Linked DNA regions of Homo sapiens. The gene in region 2 interacts genetically with the main gene of each other region. Each region holds a gene or a part of one and is shown on either strand. Other genes may lie near its edges.

Region 1 (3,500 bases), on a different chromosome or scaffold from region 2:
CCCAAGAGGTGGAGGTTGCAGTGAGCTGAGATTTTGCCACTGCACTCCAGCCTGGGTGACAGAGTGAGATTCTGTCTAAAAAAAAAAAAAAGAAAAAAAATTGTGTGTTTATTTGTATATTCATGTATAAAATATGTGTATAATGAATTTGTGTTTGTGCATATGTACAATAAATCTATAATATTTATATATCTTATACATATTCATATAATATACAGACATACCTCGTTTTATTGCATTTTGCAGATACTGTGTTTTTTACAAATTGGAGGTTTGTGGCAACTCTTTGTCCAGCAGGTCTATTGGAGCCATTTTTCCTACAGCATGTGCCACTTCGTGTCTCTGTGTCACATGTGGGTAATTCTCACAGTACTGCAGACTTTCTCATTATTACTATATCTGTCATGGCGATCCGTGATCAGTGATCTCTGATGTTACTGTTTTAATTTTGGGGGGTGCCACCGACCTTGCCCATATAAAAGGGTGAACTTAATGGATAAATGTGTGTGCTCGGACTGCCCCACTGACCAGCCATTCCCTCATCTCTCCCCATCTCCTTGAGCCTCCGTATTCCCTGAGACACATGATTTTGAAATCAGGCCAATTCAGTTCATAACCTTACAATGGCCTCGAGGTGTTCAAGTGAAAGGAAGAGTCAACATTTTTCACTTTAAATAAAAAGCTTCATAGGCCAGGTGCGGTGGCTCACGCCTGTAATCCTAGTGGTTTGGGAGGCTGAGGCAGGCAGATCACCTGAGATCAGGAGTTTGAGACCAGCCTGGCCAAGATGGCGAAACCCCGATTCTACTAAAAATACAAAAATTAGCCAGGCGTGGTGGCGCATGCCGGTGATCTCAGCTACTTGGGTGGCTGAGACACGAGAATTGCTTGAACCACGAGGTGGAGGTAACAGTAAGCCAAGATTGCACCACTGCACTCCAGCCTGGGCGACAAGAGTGTGGCTCCATCTCAAAAAAGAGATTCTTTTCAAACTATTACTGCTGGCCAGGCACTGTGGCTCACACCTGTAATGCCAGCACTTTGGGAGACCAACATGGGAGGATCACTTAAGCCCAGGAGTTGGAGGTTATGGTAAGTCATGATTGCACCACTGCATTCCAGCTGGGCAACAGAACAAGACCCTGTCTTGAAAAGAGAGAGAGAAAGAGAAGGAAGGAAGGAAGGGAGGAAGGGAGGGAGGAAAGAAGGAAGGAAGGAAGGACGGAGAAGAAAAGGGAAGGGAAGGGAAGGAAGGGAGGGAGGGAAGGAAGGGAAGGAAGGGAGGAAGAAAAGAAAGGAAAGGAAGGAAGGAAGGAAGGAAGGAATTGCCGCAGCCATCTCAACCTTGAACGACAACCGCCCTGATCAGTCAGCAGCCCATCAACATCAAGGCAAGGCCCTACACAACAGAAAGGTTCCAACTTGCTGAGTCCTCAAATGATCACAACATTTTTAGCAGGATTTTAAAATTAAGGTATGTACTTTTTTTTTTCTAGACATAATGCTATTGTGCACTTAACAGACTACAGTATAGGATAAACATAACTTTTTTTTTTGAGATGGAGTCACACTCTGTCCCCCAGGCTGGAGTGCAGTGGCGTGATCTCAGCTCACTGCAACCTCTGCCTCCCAGGTTCAAGCGATTCTCCTGCCTCAGTCTCCCAAGTCGCTGGGATTACAGGTGTGTGCCACCAGACCCAGCTGATTTTTGTATTTTTAGTAGAGATGGGGTTTTACCATGTTGGCCAGGCTGGTCTCAAACTCCTGACCTCAAATGATCCACCTGCCTCAGCTTCCCAAAATGCTGGGATTACGGTGTGAGCCACTGTGCCTGGCCTCTTTTTATTTGTTTTTGAGGCAGGTTCTCACTCTGTCACCCTGGCTGGAGTGCAGTGGCACAATCACGATTCACTGCAGCCTCAACCTCCCGGGCTCAAGTGATCCTCCCACCTCAGTCTCCTGAGTAGCTGGGATGACAGGTGTGTGCCACCACTCCTGGCTCATTTTTGTCTTTTTTGTAGAGACAGGGTCTTGCTGTATTGCCCAGTCTGGTCTTGAACTCCTGGGCTCAAGCGACCCTCCCTCCTAGGCCTCCCGCACTGCTGTGGGAGCCACTGTGCCCGGCCTCAACTCCTCCTATCTGAGGTGGCTCCCCTCGGTCATTCTCCACCACACCCATGTCTTGGCTTCATGGCACTTTTGAATTATCTTGTTCATCTGTGGGTTTCTGTATTTCCTCTTGTCTCCCCACCAGCTGAACACTCTGTGAGAACAGTGAGGGACCCCTATCTCCCCACACAGGGCAAGAACCCCTGGAAATGTGTGCTGGATGAACGGATGGCAGGACGCTGGGGGCAGCCAGGTGTCTGCGTAGGTCTTCTCAGGGGCCGTCGGGTCTGGACAGCATCCCTGAATCTCCAACACAGCAGGTAATGCTGACAGCCCGCGCCATTCCCCAAGCCCCCACGATTTACCAAGCTCTTCCCCTACTTTGAAAAGCGGGGGCCCAAAGAGACCCGAGGACCTGCCCATGGAGGAACAGAGCCAGGGCTGGGTGACCCCAGCAGTGGACGGGGTAGGGGCGCTCACCTTCCACAGAGAGCTTCTCCACCGCCCGGCGCTCGCCACGGGAGCAGTGTGGGGGCAACGTGTAGCCCTTGATGCTGCGGCCAGTGCGGACGCGGCTGCTGAGCACGTAGTTAGGGTCCAGGTCGTCTCCACCCTGGAGAGCGGGTGGGAGATCAGGACCAGGCAGATCCTCCGCCCTCTCCAGCAAGCCCAGGTCTCCCCCAGATGCTCCCCTCAGTCTCCCTGTTGCTTCCTTTGCCTTCTGCATCCTCACTGATTGGGTGTGTGGAGCCTCTCCCCGCCACCCATACCTGGGCTCTGTCTCTCCCTTCTCTGTCTCTCTCCCCTCTCCTATCTCTGTTTTTCTTTATACCTCTCTCTCCCCATCTTCGTATATTTCTTTTCCTTTTTTTTCTTCGAGACAGGGTCTCTCTCTGTCGCCCAGGCTGGAGTGCAGTGGTGCCATCATAGCTCACTGCAACCTCAAACTCCTGGGCTCAAGCAATTCCCCTGCCTCAGCCTCCCAAGTAGCTGGGACTAACAGGTAGGTATATGCCACCATGTTCGGCTAACTTAAAATAAATTTTTTATAAATAGAGACAGGGGCTGGGCGCGGTGGCTCACACCTGTAATCCCAACACTTTGGGAAGCCGAGGTGAGCCAATCACCTGAGGTCAGGAGTTCGAAACCAGCTTGGCCAACATGGTGAAACCCCATTTCTACTAAAAATACAAAAATTAGCTGGGCGTGGTGGTGCGCGCCTGTAATCCCAGCTACTCAGGAGGCTGAGGCACGAGAATCACTTGAACCTGGGGATCAGGGGTTTCCGTGAGCTGAGATCGAGCCACTGCACTCCAACCTGGGTGACAGAGTGAGATTCTGTCTCAAAAAAAAAAAAAAAATAGAGACAGGGTGTCACTATGTTGCCCAGG
Region 2 (3,500 bases):
ACACAGCCTCAGCTTCAGGTGGCTAGCCCCTCCTCACCCACTTCATTCAACTGGGCCTTGCTCTTGTCCTGCTCCTACGCGGGCCCCACACAGAGCTGCCGACAAGCCGCCTCACTATTTTTCTCCATCCATTTCATTTGTATGTGAGTCTCCCTGACAACCCAGTCAGTTATGCAAGAAAACTTCAAATTTGCTGGTCCCCCGTTTAGCACCTTTGCTTTGGAATCCTAGAATAGTCCTCTCAGAAGGGGCTTGGAGATGATCCCATCTAAGAGGACTCACAGATCAGGAGACTGAGGCTGAGATGGGGCAGGGAGACTGGACCTAGCGCCTGCAGTGGGGGAAGGCAGGGAGGTGCATCAACTTCTCTGAGCCCCAGTGTGGAAACAGCTCCTAATGTTTCTCCCCGCCGGGGTGTTGTTGCATCCAGTGGGCACAATGGCAGAAGGGCCAGCACAGGGCCTCCTGGAGTGACCCCCGGCAGAGGAGACAGCACGGGGCCTCCCAGAGTGACCCCTGAGCTGGGGTGATCTGGGCCAGGCACCTGCCTCGGCAAGTGGATTCTAAAATGGCAGGTGGGAAGGACCCAAAGGTGGGGTGGGCGTGCCTGGCTCTGTCCCCAGGTGGGGCTGGGGCCCATGGAGAGTCCAGAGAAGCTCACTCTACTGCAAAAGGCCAGGTAGCAGTGGGTGATGCCCTGCCACCTCCTCCCATCTACAGGCCTGATGGGGAGGCCAGTTTTCCCTGGGCTAAGAGAAGAGCTTGATGCTCTAAAAGGAGCATCAAGAATCCCTGAACTTAGCCAGGTGTGGTGGCTCACACCTGTAATCCCAGCACTCTGGGAGGCTGAGGTGGGCGAATCACCTGAGGTCAGGAGTTCAAGACCAGCCTGGCCAACATGGCAAAAACCTGTCTCTACTAAACATGCAAAAATTAGCTGGGCATGGTGGTGCACGCCTGTAATCCCAGCTACTCGGGAGGCTGAGGTAGGAGAATCGCTTGAACCTGGGAGGCAATGGTTGCAGTGAGCCGAGATCGCTCTATTGCACTCCAGCCTGGGTGACAGAGCAAGACTCTGTCCCCCCAAAAAATAAGCCCTGAACTCAGGGACAGCAGCAGGCCTCCTTCTGCAAGGGAGTCAGGTCCACCTGTGGTGGCAGATGGTACCAAGCTGGAGCCACTGTGCCCCGTGCCCTGGGGAGCCATGACCTGTTTCCCTGCTAACATGTCCAGTCTGTGGCTTGTTCCTTTGGGGAAGGCAGGAAGAGCCTCTCTCTGGCAGAAACACTTATAACCAGGAGGAAGGGGGGGCGCTACCTAGAGCCCTGCAGTGCCAAGGGCCCCAGGGGCCCAACAGTATTTCTAGAAAAGGCCCCTCCACACGAGGACTCATTCCCATGTCCACAGTGCTCTGGCCTTCACTGTAACCTGTAACAGGCAGACAGGCAGGAATCAGCCCCACGCACAGCCTCCCCCAGGGAGGCGTAAGCAGCCCCATAGCTAGTAAGTGGGATGATGAAGCCCCCGAGTCTCCAGCGCTCTTGCCACTCCAGAGTGCTGATTCTGCTCGACTCTCACCTCCACGCTTCTGTTCACACAGTGCCCTCTGCTAGGAATGCCCTTCCCCTTAAACCTAGTATTGCTGCTCTTCTCGCTCTTGCCTGACAGAGAAGAGAGTGAAAGAACCAGCTCTGGACCCAGACCTGGCTCTTTAAGCACTTGGAGCTGTGTGGCTCTGGGTAAGTCATGGAACCTCTCTGGGCCTGAGTTTGCTCATTAGGAAAATGGGGATTGTTATATCTATTTATGACTGCTTTGTGGTGAGAATTCCATGTGATGATTAGCACAGTGCCTAGCACATAGTGAGCACTCTCTAATGCTTGCTCTTATTATGGCTGGTGGCTCAAACACTGTCAACAGCTGCATGCATCCTCTGAGCCCCCAGGCAGCATCTGATACTCTCCCACTGCTTGTAGGCTCTGAATCACAGCATGTTGGAGCCCCTGTGCCCTGGAGACCTGCCCCACTGCCACACGAAGGGGGCTGTCTCAGGCCCAGAGCTCACCGCCCACCCCTCCCTACCCAGAGCTCTGCACAGAGCCCGATAGGAGGAGCTGTGGCTGCTGATGGGGCTGGGGGCCCCAACAGCAGAAAAGATCAGCCTTTCTCTCAGCCCCCATCACCATCCCTGCCACCCCAGCAGACAATCAGGCTGGCACTCCTAAGACCTCACCTGTCTCCCTGGAGAAGAACATAGCGACCACTAACACCCACTTGTGCCGAGTCCCACACAGGGTCTCTCATCTGCCAACAGCCTTGATGAGCACAAGGTATTTCCCTGTTTTTGCAGACAACGAGACCAGCACTGAGAGGTTAGTGATATGCCCCAGGCCACATAGTAAGCAGCAGGTTGGGATTCAAACCTAGCTCTTGCAGACTCCAAGTCTACACCACGTGGCCAACGGCCAACACGGGCCCTGACGGTGATGCCGCTGCTGATGGTGATGGTGGCATTTACTGGGTACCAATAGCCAGGTCCACCCTGTGCTTCCCTCCTGCCCCACTTTCACCTCCACAAGAACCCCAGAGGTGGGCGCTACTGCTGGACCCATTTTACAGATGAGGAAGTTAACACACAGAGCTGAGATTCTCTCATCCAGGCCTATGTGGCTCCGAATCCCTTGCTCCCTAAACGCACCCAAAATAGACCTTCATGCTCATATGATTCTTAGGGGAGAGAGGGCCCGCACACAGGCAGTGCTAGGGGCAGGTGGGGAGAGGAGGGGGAGGAGACCCACTGCAGAGTGGGGCCTGAGGCCCCTTCCCAGGAGGCAGGTGGGGATGAAGCGGGTGGGAGCTGGGAGGCTAAGCCACTTCCTGACTGTGCTGGGCAGTGGGTGGGGGTGGGCATGGTCAAAGTCCCAGTCTCACTTAGGGAGAGTGCCCCAGCTGCTGGCACCACCCCTTTTGTGGCTGCTCAACAACCCTAGAGGGCAGGAATGGGGCCTGGTCACGTGGCCACTGAAGTGGAGCAAAGGGCACCGGCATGGAGTGACAGCGGGCAGCGCCTGCCAGCCTCCCTCACAGGGCCAGGGCTCCTCCAGGGCAAGGGGCCCAGGCTACTCTTGGAATGGAGGGGAGAGGATGAGGATTTTCCCCGAGGTCCCTGGCCTTGCCCTGAAGCCCCTCAGGGGCCTGGTGCACCAAATGTCAACCTTGGGCCGGTTCTTGATCCTAAGAAGGGAGATTGGGGACGAGTGGCGCTGGCCTCTGGGCTGCCCACCCCTTGCAGGCCAGAGAGAGAACTGGGCTTATATAAGGGAGGCCTGAAGCAGTGGTGCAGTGACAGACAGGCACCAACAGGCGGGAGAGGCATTGCCCCCACCCCTCCCCAGGACCTGCAGGGAGGCTGGGGTCTCTGGGCCTGCTGACCTCTGCAGTAATCAAGGCCCCCAGGAGTCCCTTGGTGAGATCCGGAGCTCCCAAGCCCAGCCCAAGGT

The links. A genetic interaction does not mean that the proteins touch.
Region 1: changes in PDK2 (region 2) and CKM together harm fitness less than expected from each alone (positive genetic interaction), as found in Homo sapiens cells (one large-scale study listed by BioGRID).

What each region holds. Positions count from the first base shown.
Region 1 is NC_000019.10:45,312,876-45,316,375, forward strand, and holds part of CKM (creatine kinase M-type), read right to left. Parts: intron 2,723-3,500; coding exon 2,590-2,722; intron 1-2,589. UniProt on the Homo sapiens protein: Reversibly catalyzes the transfer of phosphate between ATP and various phosphogens (e.g. creatine phosphate).
Region 2 is NC_000017.11:50,101,851-50,105,350, reverse strand, and holds part of PDK2 (pyruvate dehydrogenase kinase, isozyme 2 isoform 1 precursor), read right to left. Parts: intron 3,499-3,500; exon of another isoform or gene 2,955-3,498; intron 1-2,954. UniProt on the Homo sapiens protein: Kinase that plays a key role in the regulation of glucose and fatty acid metabolism and homeostasis via phosphorylation of the pyruvate dehydrogenase subunits PDHA1 and PDHA2.